2 separate regions of the Homo sapiens genome follow, and region 2 is linked to region 1. A link means that fine-mapping ties the variant in region 1 to the expression of a gene that starts in the linked region. Tissue or cell type: whole blood. Region 1 holds a variant in brackets; the other region holds the start of a gene. All regions are shown on one strand. Distances are from middle to middle.

Region 1 (8,105 bases):
TAATGGAGTAGGTACCAAGAGAGCAGGATCGTGGAGGAAGGAATGATGGCTGCCCGGTTGGCCTGGGAAGTCAAGGACAGTTTCAGAGAGATACAAAGTGACTTTTGTAGCTGGTGCTGGCAGGAGGAGGAGGGTGGGGATGGTGTGCGGTGCATGCATAGGTGGGATGATAGGTCATCCGGTGGTGGAGCTGAGGGTGCGTTGGAGGTTTAGGATGAAGGATGGGGAATGCAGTAGAGGAGATGGGGTGGAAGAGCCAGGCAGGGGCTGCAACGGACACGCAGGTGGACCTGTCTAGCTCACATCCCTTTCTTTGGCAGCCTCTCCTTCTCAACCCACGTCCCTGATGAGACACTGGGGACAAGGTGGCTGTGACCCTGTCCACAGCTGAGCAGACCAGAGGGATGGACACATCTGACCCAAACAAATCCAGATTCTCTGTCTCGAGAATCTGATCAAAGGCAGAGATGTCTGAGGTAGGTGTTGTGGGCACTTAGAACTGAACAGTCTTGGGGAGGTGGGAGAGTGCTGAGGCCGCCCAGAATCTGCCACATCTACGTTTTGGAGAAGTGGATGACCCAGGCTACAGAGAAGGCAGGGGATATGACCATCAGAGGTGTGAGGCCTGCCCGGCCCCTTTTTGGCTGTCTGCTTACACGTGGGTTCTAGAACGGTCCCCAGGAGCAGACCATAGGGTCTTGCATACCATGAACAAGAGCTTAGAGGTAGGTAGTTGGGGAATTATAAGCAGTAGAGTAATGAGATTTAATTTTAGAATGGTTTCTCTGGCAGCTGCATCAGATAACCTGAGGAAGGATAAGGCTGGTGGCAGGTGGACCAGTTAAGAGGCCCCTATAACAGTCTGTGCCAGAACTGACAAGGATTTTTTCCAGTGAGCAGAGAGAGGCATGGATTAGCCATCACAGGCGGTAGGAATAACTGCGTTCAGTGACCACTAAATGTGGGTGAGACAGGGCTGTGGGGTGCCTCCCTGGCTTTGCTGATGTCCCAGTCCAAGCCCCAATATTACAGAACTGGTCCACCAGATGCAGCATCTCTATTTGCTTGGCAGAACTTGGGTGTGAGAAGGGAGTGGCAGTGTGTTCCAGGGAAAGCTGGAGGACCCAAGTGACAGGCGTGCTGAGGCCACCACAGGGGGTTGGTTCCTGGCTTCCTTGTGGGTGGAGCCAGGCTGGCAACTCTTGCCAGTGGGGCCTTGGAGGAGAAGCACTTCCTCAGTTGAAACTTTTGAGATAACTGTAGGTTCACATGCTGTTGTAAGTAATAGTCCAAACAGACCCAGTGCACTTGTATATAAGTTCTGTATGATTTTAGGGGAGATTTTAAAGAAAGGAAGCAATGGTCCCTGAGTGTGTCAGTGGTGTCAGATCACCAATCCTAGAGGCCAACAGATGTGAGCCTCTCTTTCTCCATTCCTGAGTTGCAAGCATTGGAACCTCTTTCACTGTGCTTTCCTCTCCCTGCCCGTTCCTCTTCCCATAAAAGGACTTGACTCATTAGCATACTGTCTCCAGCAAGGCCATCTTTCCTGGCACCTGGAAGGGGTTGGCCAGCAGAGAAGCTCTGTCATATTGGGAGGGCACACTGCCACTGTGCCCAACTAGGCCACCCTGAACTTAATTTGCATTCTCTGCTCAGGAAACTGCTTACGAGGCTTCCCACCAGAGGAGATCATTGGGAAAAAACACAGCACTAAAAAAGCTTAGGAGATTAACAAGATGAAAACATTAGCAAAAAACCCATCGGTTCAGAGAGGTTTTCTGTAAAAACAGAACAGACTGAAAAAAACGAAGTCTTTTCAATGAAAACCTTCCTTTAATAAAGAGCATTTGGTATTCTTGCTGCTAATGATGATAATGTTGGTACTTAGCAGTTTGATATGAGCCTCCAAAATGCCAATTGTCTGAGATGTATCAAGCCCTGGGGGAAAAGGTCAGTTCTCCTTTTTCTTTGGTCAAAAGCAGTGAAAGACTGAGTCAGTCCCCCACCCAGCTGGCCACTGTCGAGCAGGGGAGCACAGGGGCTTCCCTCCCCATGTCAGAGCTCTGGCAGGTGCCAGCTCAGGGGACTCACTCACCAGCTGCTATCCTAACTCTGGCCCCAGGGAGACTGTCATTACTACTTTTAATTGAAATATTTGCATATCATAAATTGCACCCTTTGAAAGTATACAATTCAGTGGTTTTTAGTATATTTGCAAAGCTGTGCAACCCTCACCACTATCTAATTCCAGAATATTTGCATCCTCCTCCCTTCAGCCACTGGCAACCACTCATCTACTTTCTGTCCCAGTAGATTAGTCTATCCTGGACATTTCACATAAATGGAATCATACGCTCTGTGGTCCTTTATGCCTGGCTTGTTTCACTCAGCATAATGTTAAGATTCATCCACTGCATCGCATAGGTTGGTACTTCTTTGCTTTTTAAAGGCTGAATGCTCTTTCACTGTTTGGATACACCACATTTTTTTGAGCCATGTTCATCCTTTGGTGGACATTTGAGTTGTCTCCCATTTCTCATTAGGGGGCTGCTGACCCAGTCTCCTCTATGAGGTAAAGATGAGCTGGCAGCACCTCCTGCCAGAGGTACCAGGGATGGCCCAGTGATGTTCCTGAGATCTGAATGGCCAAGGCAGAGAGCAGTGGCTCGCAAATGAGGCTCTTTATAGAGCTCTGGGGGAAGTCACAGAAGGGGCTGTGTCTTCCCACCATCTGTTTGGTGAAGCTCTGTGATGCCCTTGGAAGGCTTTCAGCTCCCCCTGATGCTAAGGTCAGGTGGGTGTGGTCCCGGGCCCACCACTCTGCTCCATGCAGAGCACTGATCTATTTCATATTTGGTTTCAGGATAAGATTGTGTTTGCAGAGACTAAAAATCTAACAACCTTAGGTCTGGAGGACAAGGCTCTCTGAAGCAGCAGAGGATGGCAGTCTTTTCCCCACCACTGCCAGGTGGCGCACGTCTTGGCTCTAGGTGTGCAGACAGCCCTTCTCTGGGTGGGTAAGTGTGTCTAGACTGGATAGGGCTATCGCTTCTCGGCCTTTTGGCTAAGAGCAAGTGTAGACTGGATAGGGCTATTGGAAAGGCTCACAGGAGGCCTCTCTGTGTCTCTGTGGCACAGAGCCTCCCAGGAAGCTGGCAGGAAATGGCAGACATCTCTTCTCTCCTCTGCCTGCCAAGCATCATAAATATCCAGGCCCAGAGAAAGGTGCCCGCTTAGTACCAGGAGGGAGCTGAAGGCCTCCCAGGGCTGCTGTGACCAAGCATGGCTTCCAGCCAAACACACGGGGGAGCACAGATGCTTCTGTGAGCTGCTTGTGGGGCCACAGCCCTGCACAGCACAGCCCCCATTCTGGGCTTGGGCAGTGGACGTGCAGGCGCCTCTAACTCAACCTGTCCCTGTCACACAGGAAAGGACACCTCAGCCTGCTTTGGGCTCCAGGTGTCAAGAAAGTTGTTTGCAACTGGGAGATACACAAACAAGCTGGGTTTTCTGTTTTTCAAAAATTATATTTCTAAGGCAAGCTGGGCTATGCTTGGACCAGGCTGGGGGATCTAGTGCAGAGAAGGGAAGCATCCAGTGTTGTGCGGGATATTCCTACTAAAAGCCATGTCTCATGTCCCTGACTCCTCCAGGCCTGGCACTTGGCTGGGACAACTGCTGTGGTGTGATTCCCATGTGCACTGGGAGGTGGAGCTTCTGGGGACAGAGGGACAGCTTTGATTGCCAGGTCCCTGACTCACCTCCCAGAAAAGGAGGAGAAACAGGGCACTGGCCACTTGGCATGGTGCCGCTGGAAAATGGTCCAACAGTACCCTAAGGCCACTCTTTCTCCCTGTCCCCTGCCTACCCCTCCTTGTCCTCCCCCAATTCTCCTGAGCTCCTGCCACGGTATAGACAGCAGATGGCCAGTTCTCCCAGGCACACGGTAACAGGGACATGGGGACATGCAGGAAGAACACACTCACCTCCCAGGGCGTGTTCGGTCATACTGAGGCACAACGACTCCAGCCTGTTGTTGATGTCAGGTTCGGTCACGGGAAGCTGGAATTCTGCAGGCGATAAAGGGTTATGTTGGTGACAAGGAGGAGATAAGCAGGGTGCCACCTGGTTCCACCTTCAGGAGAAAGGTCTGGTGTACCTCCCTGGGAGGACTTGGGGACTGTCAGCGCTGGCATGGAAGGGGCTCCACTCAGGCTCAACCAACCTCTAAGGTCTGTTAAACACAGTCCACTGTGAACTTGGGAACCTGGAACAAAACGGAGACTAAAAATAGCTGGTCATGTCACAGTCTGTGCCTCCTCTGCTCAGAACCCTCCAGCGGCCTCCCATCAAAGTAACAGCCAACCTCCTGCCCTGGCCCA[T/C]AAGGCCCCGCATGATCCAGGCCCTTGTTATCTCTGTACCCTCATACAGCTCTCTCCTTCCTCTGCTCTGCCCCAGGCCCCCTCCTACCTCACGGCCTTTGCACCGCTGTTCCCTGGGGTGGTTTCCATGGCTCTCCCTGCCTTCACATTTCTGGCTCTATCATCTCCTTGGAAAGGACTTTGTTCCTTGTATGAGCCATGCCCCCACACTATCCCTTTCCCCTGCTTTATTTTTCTTCATAGCCTTCGCCCACAGCTGTCATATTTGATATTTGTATTCACTTTCTACTGTCCCCCTCCCCTGACCCCGCTGAGTGCTCACCTCATTGGAGCAGAACATGGCTCTGCCCCCTGTGCCTAGAGCAGGGCCTGGCATGCATCTAGAGTGGGAGAGGAAAGCCAGGGCCCAGCACGCACCTCTTAGTGTGAGACCACGTGGGGGGCTTTAGGTGTGCGGGCTCCTTAATCTGCCCAACAAGCCCAAGTGGGGTTCAGAGAGGTGAAGTCACTCATCAAAGTTAGCCAACTAACACAAAGCTGGGACAAGACCCTCTCTGACTCCAGAGCCGGGGCTCAGCCACCTGCCACAGCAACTGCAGGTAACTGTCAACACACTCAGCCTCGAGGGCCTCTAGAATCAAGGGCTGAGACACCCACTCTGCAGGCAGTAGGGGCTCGGCTCCCACTGACCGACAGTGCTGTGCACATTCTCACCACAATCTCCCCTCTACCACCTGGAACCCCTCTATCTCCCCAGGTTCCAATGTCGCCTCTTGTGAGCAGGAGGCAGTGTCTGGGAGCCACCTCCTCTCACCTGCTGGAGCCCTCACTGTCAGCACCTCCGCAGGCCTCATCCAGTGGCGACTTTAAATGTCCTCAACTACCTGGAAGTGCCTTGTAGACAGTGATGATGCTTCCCTATCTCTCTGAATCTCCCACAGCGCCCAGCCCTGGCCTTCTGCCTCATACATGTCTACTGAGCGAAGAAAAAGAGAAAGTAGAAGAAGTAGAAGGAAACTCTGACAGCTAAGAGTTGTGAAATCCTTTTTGTTTTTTTTTTTTTTTTTAAAGTTTTGTGACACTGGTTTGAAAAGAATTGCAAAATCCTAAGGGGAGAGGCAGAAAAAAAGTCCCAGAGGGGGTGTCCACAGCGGGGTGTGTTCCAGGTGACCGAGAAGTCTCCGTGTTGCCACCACCTTCCTCTGTGAGCCTGGGAACCTGTTCCATGCTGAGGGCCTTAGCTCCTCTACCTGTCAAGTGGGCAAAGCATCCCGGGGTCCCCCTGCAGGCCACTTGCCTGCTCCTTCATGTCTCCACCAAGGGAGCACATGGGGCCAGAGAGAGAAGAAAGAGAAGTGAAACGAAGTTGGTGGCTTGGTGGGATAGGAAGCTGAAACCAATGGTTAAGTCAAAGTTTTGTTTTCCTTGATTTGCTATACATTAAGATAATCTCTGCAATGTGTGTTTCCCATTGTCAGCTAATTCAGAGGCAGATGTTGCTTCCGTTATTTAAAAATCTCAGAAGCCTGGCAAAAAGGAACGCTATGGAAAGCACCAGAGAGCTGACTGTGTTCTTCCTGACCCATGTTCCGGCATCGATGGGTTTGGAAGACAACCGTGCCAATACGTGAGCAGACGGAGGCCGACTGAGCTTCCAGGGAAGTGGGGTGCCACAGAGAATGGCAGGAGTCTCCACCGCCCCCACCCACTAGTTGCTGTTAGAGTAGGGTCGGGGCAATTAGACAATTCCAGGGGGAAGAGATTTTAGTATTTTCATCCATTCATGTGAAAATCATATGCATGCAAAAATTAGCAGTCTTCAGGGTGTGAAATCTATAAAATAGAAACACAATTTTATATATAGCGAGTTAGCAAATATGAAAAAAAAAAACAAACCTCAGCAATTATAGCCATCCATATGCTCATTGTAAGATTTAGTTTACTCTCCAGCGCTCCCCTTTAAACAAACACTGTGGAGAGATTTGGATAAATAAAGATGCTCGACATTTGGAGAGAAGTGTTTCAGCTGCAGGATTTCTTGCCAACACGCAGCAAAATGCCATTTTCCAAGCCTGGGATTGCGTGTTCCAAAAAGGGGGCTGAGAAACGCAGGGCTCTCCGCTCCAGAATCCCCAAACCTTCGTGGCTGCTCTTTTAGGTGGGAAGTGGGGGTGTTCGCTTCTTCTCCCCAGCTCTTTGCTTCCATGCACTGGGGAGCCGTGACCCCCAACACTCCGAGTGGCTCTGAAAAATTCTAAGTCTTGGGAGAAGCCCATATGTTCACACTGCAGAGTTTCCTAATAGTGTGACTTTTTAATTGTGTATTTGATAAAAACAGATCCATGCCATCTCGCCGCACGTATAAGACAGAAAGACCAGTTGGGTGGAAAACAGCTTCCATCTCAGGCTAGGAACCCTCAGCTGTATGGGGCTAGGTGCCCCAGAGGGGCATTCGGGCAGCTCTTGCCCCACAGACCAACATAAACCACCAGGCCAACCCTTGCTGTGGCTCCTGTTAACCCTGAGGGCCCATCTCATTTATCCCAGGCCCCTGCCCCTCGTGGCCACAGACCAGGCAGATGGAGATGTGAGTCTTCAGGAAGGCAAAAGGAAAGACCCCTCTTTAACTGAGCCTCCTCTGCTCTTTCCCAAAGGAGGCATGTTTCTTCAGCTCAGATGGCATCTCTGAGGACCAGTATTCCAGTATTCAGTAAGGATCGCTAGTTTTGGAATCCCCAAGGTCTAGGCTGACTTGAGACATTAATTGTATCTTTTCAGAAGTCCCACACGTATGGAGTAGTCCTGTGCTCAGGCCCAGGGTCAAGAAGATTCCGGAAGAGAATGCTACCCATCCCTAATGAGGTGCTGCTGCAGCATCCACCTGAGGAGCCCAAAGGGCTTGTCCTTGGCAGTAACCGTCCATCCCTGCTGGGTCTCACATGTGTGGCACCCACGGTGCAATTCTGCAGTGCTTTTTCTCCAAGGCACTGAGGGTAAGGAGCCAATTTCTTTAGGACTTTAGAATAAGAAACAGGCTGGGGCATTCCAGGAAAAATCTATAGAATCCCGTTTTGCCAATGACAGCGGAGGCAACTCTGTTGGATAACTAGAAAGGTGTGGAGTCTGGTTCACTGAGCAGCAGGGTTGCTAGGAGGAGAGAAAGCAGGGAAGACAAAAAGGGACAGAGCAGTGGGACCTGGTCTGCTGTGATGAGATGAGTAAAGAAGAAAGGAAGACAAGAGAACTAAGAAGAAAGGGGGAGGATGGTAACAAAAGGGAAAGAAACGGCACAGGCAGGGAAACAGAGGGGTGGGGCAGCAGGCAAGCTGAGGATGGCAGAGATGGCCATGGAGGGTGGCAGGAGTAATGAATAGCATCCCTGAGTTGACCATGGGAACGCACCTTTTCTCTGGTGGCCTCCTAACATTCCTAAGCCTGCAGAAGGTCAGTGCCTGTGGAGGTCCTCTGGGACCAACGCTTTCACAAAAAGTGATGGGTACAACATGGTATAAGATGATATTGTACCATCTTGCCCCAAGTTGATGCTCAGAGGCAGGAGGCTGTGGGCCCAGCTGGGTTCTTGGCTATGACAGAATTGATTTATTTATCAATCTCCCTACCCATTGTCTGCCAGTCCTGAACAGGGATGTCTGCCTTGATTTATTAGAAGACATGGAGGAAATATTTATCCAGTACTGTACTTGGGTCCCTGTTCTGGTT
Region 2 (8,105 bases), 220 kb after region 1:
CAAACATACACAAATAGTGTATATTTTGTGGGTTACGTTTTTGTGGATTAACTTATAAATCTCTATGAAAAATATATTTCAAGTCCAAGTGACAAAAGCCATAAATAAACAATGCCACAAAGTCTATTTTTCTTTTGGAAACTTCAGGTAAAGTCAGTGGGTTGCATTTTTGCTACTTGTAGGTATCAAATGACCTGCTAGTCCTGGAACTGAGACTGGCCAGAAGTCTCAATGTTCAACTGGAGCAGTAGCTGAAGAGACTTATCTAAGGTTATAAGGATCCTGGGAACAAGACTGTACTAGAGAACTGATCATGACCATATCTGTTAAAAGAAAAACACATACAAATAAATCCATAGGGACTGATTCAATCATTTCTTGGAATCTCCAATGACCATGAGCCTGAGGCAAAGGATGAACCAGTGAATCACTAGATTCTCAATAAATTTAAGAGAATGAAAGCACCAAATTACATCCCACAAATCTCAAATAAATCATGTTTAATGCGCAGGATATCTCACTATTTAAAATCAGTCCTGCATAAAACGAGAGATATATTCATACTATTACTAGTAATTTTTTTTTATTATACTGAGATCGAGTCCCATATATGAATTTGGTTCCCATTTACCAAGTTTTAAAATCTCTAAACACTAGACAAAATGTGAGGGTTTTTTAAATTGATGATTACAAAATAAAGTGATACAAGATGACTTCGGTACAGGAAATCTCAGCAATCCAATGAATGAGTCATTCTGCACAGCCTAGTTTTCTGAATTGGTAAGAGCCTTACACATCAAAACAGCTCAGAGGTTAATTATTCTGGGTGTAAACATTTCCAAAGTATATTGAACATTTCCTTCTCTTCTTAAAGAGTGTATCTAAAAATGTATTATTTCCATAGTTCACCGTTAACAACAGTAAATAGCAATTATTTGTTTATGTTATTATAGAGTGGTGCCTACAAGGTCAATTGAGGGTTCCCACCCTAATATTCCCAAGCCTTCAAAGTTTCTGCCCCAATTCTTGTCTAAAGTTACAGTTTTTCTGTCTCTTTCCAAGTTGTCAGGCTGTCAGGGGTCACTTTTTACTACTGATTACAGCAGTCCCTCACCCCATTCTAAATGTGTTACCCCCAATACACTACGGATTATTTGTCAAATTTTTTAAATGTTAGGATTGTGTCTAGAATAAGAGCAAGTACATTCTGAGAGAGGGCCTGAAATATTCTCTTGGACTTTCATGCTATCTACTCTGGTTGCGAAGTGGACTTTTTGCCCCCTTCCTGGTTCTTGGCTAGTTTCCGGATATGCAGAGAGCCACACTACAGACTCAGGTATGCTATGACAACTCCTGATGCTCTTTATGATCCCCACACTCCGAAAGTAAACCAAATCATCACATGACCTCCTAAGAAATTTCTGTCCTGGCCACACAACAAAACAACTGCAAAGATTTCCATGCAGGCAAAACGTCTAGGCGAAGGATTAATCCAGAAACTGGAGACCAGTTCCTATCTTACACAATGGTTCTATATTTTGTATATCTACATCATTTAGCAGCATGAACAGGTGGGTATCTTATACAAATAAGTATGGCCAAACATGTCTTAAGGGAAAAAAAATGCCAAGTGACTTCAAAAAATTCACAGTTCAATTTTTTAAATTATGAGATTTTTAAAATTAGGCCACCTTATTTTAACATTTAACTGTTTTACTTACTAACCTGGTGGCTGCTCTATTGGGAAAAGTCATCTCCATTACTCAAAGGGAAAAAGTGCTGCTCCAACATTTGAATAACCTAAAGATGAGTTTGAACAGTCCCTACCAGCACTGAAATCAAGCATTCAACCTAAATGACTCTGCGTAAATCCTCTGCAATCTATAAAATGCAAAAGTTTATATAACCTTGTTTGTCAAACCTGAGAAAGTAAAACCGAGCAGGTAAACCAGGCTTCCCGCTGAAATTAAGGAAGGAAGCAAAGAGGGTGGATCATCAGTTACCCAATTATGCTTCCACACCCCAGTGAAGGAGGCTGGCCCTCCAGCTATTTATAAACGTGGAGCTCAACCAAAGGGGGCCCTGTCATCGCCACCCCAGTGAGTCCTGGTGTGAGCTGGGAGGCTCGGGCTCAATGGAATCTCCCTCAATGTGGCCCTCCATACTTGGCCATGCAGGATCTTTCGGGTGCAGTCCTGTCTGGTCAGGAAAAGAACTGTGAAGATTTCCAGCGGTCACTTCCACCCTATGATTCTATATATGGAAGCATCCCATTCTAGTGTTTTCACCATCGTGCACACCATACTAGGGAGGAGGAATGAGTAGGCCGGCTCGCTTCTTGCTGCTCTGAAGGCACACTCACTTTAGTGTCTCCCAGGCCCCACTGCCCTGGACTGGACCTTGTCATCAAATGGCAGCCCAGACCTCTGCTGAGCTTTGCAGGCTCGCAGCTCCAACATGGAACAGCTGGAAGAGGACCCTGCATTCTTTTCTCTGCATAAACACTGGGGACTCTGTTCACCCTCCTGCAGCAGCATGAACTAAAGAATTTCCCCCTATCCAAAATCACAACCATCAGACTTTCCCCCCATCCCCCAGCCTCCTCCTACCCTCCAGGATATAATTTCAGTCTGTCACCACCCACGCTAGCAAATAGGAAACTGCTGGACCTTTCGACTATATTCACTTTCCATACTAGTTGAGGTGTCTGTAAATACTAGCAGGGTAATATGAAACGATTCTGTTCTATTCAGTAAAGTTTCCTAACGAAAAGCATTAAGTAACCCACTTCATGCCTGTCCTTTCTCCAAGACCCTTTTTTTCTACAAGATCCGTATCAATATGGATAATGTCACGAGCAGTAAGCTTAACCGCATTATATATATATATATATATATATATATATATATATATATATATATATATATGCTGCAAATGTCATTTTACTAGTCTCTAGCGTCACCTGCATATTATTCTGAAGACGAAGCTCTAAAACCAGAATATCTGTGGGGAAAAATGAATAATAAAATTGGATTTTCATGTACTCCTCACACAGCCTTATCCAAGCTTGGCTTCTGAAGGGCAGTCCCGGGCATCTATCATGTGTTGCTGAAATCCAGCGAGCCACGTTGCCCAAAAGAAGGAGGAGGAAGGAAAAAACACACACACCCAGAAAATCCAGACTCTACGTGACCTGACTTACTTATTTCCCAGGAAACTGCATGAGAGAAAAATCAATCATTCATGCTACCGTAGCTACCACACGGAAAGGGCTGACGGAGTTCACAGTGGGCAAAATCCCAAAGCGGCCGGCGGAGGTAAGTAGGTGGGGGGCGGTAGTGGGGGGACACCCGGAGGGGGTGGATTCCGAGGGCCTCGGGGCCACGCCGTCCAGGTCCCGGCGCGGCTGGCAGGGACTGGCCTCGGCCTGGCCCGAGGCAGAGAAGCGGAGGGAGGAGCGGGGGTTGGGCAGGCGGGACGGCGGCGGCGGCCGCCGCACACTTACCGGGGCTGTTGGCCTCGCGTTCGAGGACGTGCAGCTCGGCGCAGTCGGCCAGCGAGTGCTCCAGGCAGAGCTGGAGGAAGCGGGCCTGGGTCTGGCTCACGCGCTTGAGCAGCGACAGCAGCGCAACAGTCTGCTCGCACTCGTTCCAGCCCTTAAACCAGCCCGCCAGCACCCCGACCTGGTCGCGAAACATCATGGTTAGGGGGCCGCCCTCGGTCTACAGAGCCCCCTGGGCGCCCCAGCCCGCCCCGCCCGCCCCAAAGTTTGGCGGAGCCGCAGCCCCGCGGCCGGAGACGCGTTCCTGTTCCAAGGTGGCTCTGGTGCCCGGACGCTGCAGGTACTGCCTGGGCTCCTGCCTCTCTTGTCTGGTTTCAGTTACGTTCCGGTGGTTCTGGCTGATTTCCCCAGAGACGATGACAGACAGTAGCACGGAAATGTTTCTTTAAAAAAAAAAACGACTTTTTAAAAATCCCCCACAAGGCACACAACTGAATGAAGAATGCTTTCTCCCCCCTTCTTGCAGCTTTGGGATGGTGATTTCCGGCGTCCTGGGGTCTCCTCCCCGCTGGGCGGCAACTCGGACCCTTCACGCCCGCATTCCCGAGCGGCGATCACCACTGGAAGGAGAGAAAGAGCTGCAGTGAGACCTCGGCTAGCGGAGGAGCGCGCCCTGGGGGGACGAGGGCATCAGAGGGTGCTGGGGCCAGGGGAGGGGGCGTCCCGCGGAAGGTTGGGTTCGCCGAAATCCAGCCGCCCCCTCCGCCCCCTCCGCACCCGATGTGGGAGATGGGCTATTCCCCACCGGGTAACAGCGAGAAGCCTGCTTCCCAGGTGCGGGAGGAGACCCCGCGGCTTCCTGTTGCTGCCGCTGCCAACGGCTGGTGCTCCCCTCACGGCCCGCCTGGGGTGGCCTCGGGCGCCGTGCTTAAGAACGCCAGCACCAGCAACAGATCTTCCCCGCGCAGAAAACTTGCAATGCGGCTGCGAAGGGGCGCGGGGGTGGGGGTGGGAGCTAATGCAAAGCAGAGGCGGAGGCAGCGGCAGCCCGAGTTCCTTCCTCCTCCTCTTACTCCTCCTCCTCCTCCCAGAGAAGCAGCCGAGCGGCTGCAGCTCCATCTACAGCAACAGCCAGCATCTCCACCGCCAGGCGCCCCTCTGGATTTAGGCCGTGAGCAGCCGCGGCAGCAGCTCGAGACAAAAATAAACTCTCTCCACCCAAAGCTCCGCGCCCAGCGGGCGGCGGCGCAACCCAGAGCCCCGGCTCCCCCGCGCCGCGCCGCACCAGCCCACCCGGGAGGTCTCCCTGGGCCTGCTCCGGCCGGAGCGGTCACTGTGCGCGCGCGTGTGCGTGTGTGTGTGCGCGCGTGTGTGGCAGGCATCCTGCCGCCGCCGCCTACGGGCTGGTCTGTCCGGCCCGGAGCCTCGCCCGCGCGTCGCAGGCCGAGGGCGGCACAGCGCTGGGCACACGCCCCGCGAGGGGACGGCCGGGGTCCGCAGCGCTGCTCCCTTCGGCCAGCGGGGCGGCCCCGCGGGGAATGCGGATCGGCGCCGCAGGCACACGCCCCCCAACGACAGCAAAGAAAGTTCGGCTGCGGGGGTTCCCCCAGTCCCATCCCGGTTCTCGTGGCCGCCGCCGGCGGGGAGGAGAACCCAGCGACTCAGCCTTCAAGGAGCCGCTAGCTTCCAACAACACGCTGCTTCCGGCTCCCAGAACTTCTCGGGCGGAGGGGGAAGCCCCCGGGGAGGGGACCCCCAGTGACCCGCGGGTCCCCCGCCGAGGGCCGTAGGGAGGGAGCGCTCACCTCGGCGCGGCTCATCCCGGCGGCTCGGGGGCCCTTGCGCGGGTCCGGGGCCGCGGCGGCTCTCAGCGGGGTTGGGGGCGCCCGGAGCGCCGGCCGCGGGCCATGCCGTCGGGGCGGGCGGCGCGGGGAGAGTGCGGTGCTTCGAGTCGGGGCCGCTGCAGCCGCCGCTGCTGCTGCCTCCAGTGTCGGCTCGCGGAGGACTGAGCCGCCCGAGCCGGAGCTCCCCACATGCTACTGATTAACATACACCATTACATCATGGGCTTGGCAGGGAGCGCCCGAGCGGGGGGAGAGGAACCCGGGCGGCGGCGACGGCACGCGGGGGGAGCCGGGGGGAGGAACCCCGGACCCGGCGCAGGGCGGGGGGACGGATTCCTAAGTGGGGACCAGAAAAAGGGGAGGGGAGCGGAGTGGGAGGAGCTGGTGGCGCAGAGGGGTCGGGTAGAAGGAACCTCCGAGAGGAACGAAGAAGTTCGGGGAAGAGGACGGGTCCGGGTGAATTTCTTCCTGCGGCCGCCTGCGTGTTCTGGAGGGGTCGGGACACTCAAGCCACTGGAGCCCCGGCAGAAAGGGACCCGAGGGCGCTCGGGCGGGGGCGGTGCTGCCACCCGCTGCTTGTCCTTGGGAATGTGGTTCGTCCGCTCGGCTGACCCTCGGCCCTTCTGGGGCCCCGGGGTGGCCGAGGTGTTTGGCCCCCGGGCGGTGAGACCCGAGGTCACTGCCGCACTTGCTGGGATGGGTTCCGGGGGTCGTGGAGGCGAAGGGTTCACGAGGCTGAGGGGCAGTGCGCAGGGTTGGACCTGCCCAGGCGCTAGGTTCCGTGCCGCCCTAGTCCAAGGGCCTGGCCCGGGTCGGGTGCCGGATGCCCTTTGCTCTGGCGCAGGCTCCTAGAGGCCGGCCCGGCGCCTGGCTGAGTCCCACTCTTCCCCGGGGAGGTGGCCGAACTCCTGAGACCGGTCGGGGGAGCTGTGCCTGGCGCGCGGGCTGCGGCTTCTGGCCTGGAGCGGAGGCGAGCGCCGCCCTGGGCGACAAAGAGGCGGGGCGAGGCCACCTGTCAGCGCTTAGGCGTCGCCAGGCCTCGCAACCTTCACCTGGATCTGGAGAGTGCGCAGGGCCGCGGCCACACCGGGGCTTCAGGTCCTTGCCGCGCGAGAGGCGAGGAGGGCGCAGCGCAGAGGCTGAGTGGCGCAGGGTGGGCTGCGAAAGTGCCTCTGCTAGTCTTGAAAGTAAAGGTTTGGTTAAAAATACCCTAAACCCTAAAAACCTCTGTACCTCCTGATATGGGTTGAATATTCGCAAGAAGGACTGGATGACTAAATCTGGGCTATCTCCGTGATTTCAGAGGAAACACTGCTCCCTCCAGCAACTTGAGGCTTTGTTTATACGGGAGTAATTCTGAGAAGGCAGTGAAACGCGTGTTTCAGACCCAGCCTTTCCTACTCCTGCTAATCCACTGTTTTGAAGAGAAAGTATCTGAGATATTATTCCACTAATTAACACTTTTGTTTTCCAACTCCGGCATATGTCCCTGGAATTTAAATGCTTTCTTCCCTTCCTCCTCAAATTTAGTTTCTGCAGCGTATAGTTCGTTTCAGACACGTGATAGCACCTAACCATCTGTTAGGGTTTTTGAAAGGTCTTGTCGAGGTCGAGCTGCAAAAATGTGGATTTTTTAAAAGTTAATTATTAACCAGACAGGTGAGGTATCCGCTTAATTTAATGAATATTTTGCCCTATTTAGAAAACAGGAAACCTGAAGTCAGTGTTTTATTTTTGTTTTGTTTTGTTACTGTAGAGGCAGAAAGGCTTGATAGATTTTCTCCAAGAGATTACTATGAATTAGCTAATTCTTAGTAATAACTTATATCAGGAAATAGGGAGGATTAGAGAGTATGGTCTACTTCGGTATATACCTTGCTATAAATTGTAGGCAAAGCAGATGTCGTTCTAGGGCTTTTGGAAGCTCCCAAGAGTGAATTTTTTTTAAAAGAAAGTGAAAAAACCAGAAATTTCATTAACATGTATTTTCACCTGCAGCTTACTAAAGGTATAGTAAAACTAAAAACAAAACAACAAAAAAAAAAAACAAAACTTAAGCTGGTGAATGAAAATACTGCCATCTACTGGAAAAGTGTAGTTCTTACACCAGCCTTTGACCTAGGAAAAGACATTGATTTATCTCATTTTTGAATTCTTACTGTTCAGGACACTCTAAGACATATAAAGTTGAGCATGACATGAGCTGTCAGTACTCTTGTATTTGTGTGTTAACAATTCCTTTCCTCTGGGCAAAGGAAAGGGAGTATAAATAAAACCCAGGGATGTGGCCTCACTCTTCCCCAGAGTGAAGTCATCACTCTAAAGGAAAAAAAAAATACATTCATTAAATATAAGGTATTGTATTAAGTGTGGATTTTTCCTATGTCAACCTGGACCCAGTATTATTGATAAATAAGAAGTGCCTAACACTTACTATATAGTCACATCACTTGAAAAATGAATGAAAATATCCTTTCATTAGAAGAGATATTACTATGTCTATGTTCACTGTATTCCTATTTATTCATTTGAAAAATACTTATTGTGTCACCTTGTGCCAGGCACTGGGTTAGGCAATAAGTACCCTGAGTATTCTGAGTACCAAGTACAGGCACTGAATACACGATGGGGTACTAACCAAGAGATACTTTATATGAATAAAACACAGATCAGATTATCATGAATTAACATTCCCAACATTATTTTGCTTTTCTCCTCCTTAGAATCTGGGAAGGGAAGAAATTGTTTTCTGAGTGAAT

Evidence for each region. PIP is the estimated chance that this variant, and not a neighbour inherited with it, causes the effect.
Region 2: it holds the start of SAMD4A, and the variant in region 1 is fine-mapped to the expression of SAMD4A in whole blood (TOPMed, PIP above 0.99).

The regions. Positions count from the first base shown.
Region 1 is chr14:54,780,505-54,788,609 of GRCh38, reverse strand. SAMD4A (sterile alpha motif domain containing 4A) reads right to left here. Exons shown (of 13, transcript NM_015589.6): 12 at 3,990-4,073. Among named protein-coding and RNA genes, the nearest start is that of MIR4308, 94 kb to the left of the region's middle. The variant T/C (reference allele first, on the strand shown) is at 4,386.
Region 2 is chr14:54,563,513-54,571,617 of GRCh38, reverse strand. It overlaps SAMD4A (sterile alpha motif domain containing 4A), which reads right to left and starts at 4,490. Exons shown (of 13, transcript NM_015589.6): 1 at 4,280-4,490; 2 at 3,506-4,122. The coding sequence starts at 3,701. RefSeq lists silencers at 3,459-3,518, 3,759-3,818, 4,659-4,848, 4,969-5,018, 5,579-5,708 and 2 more.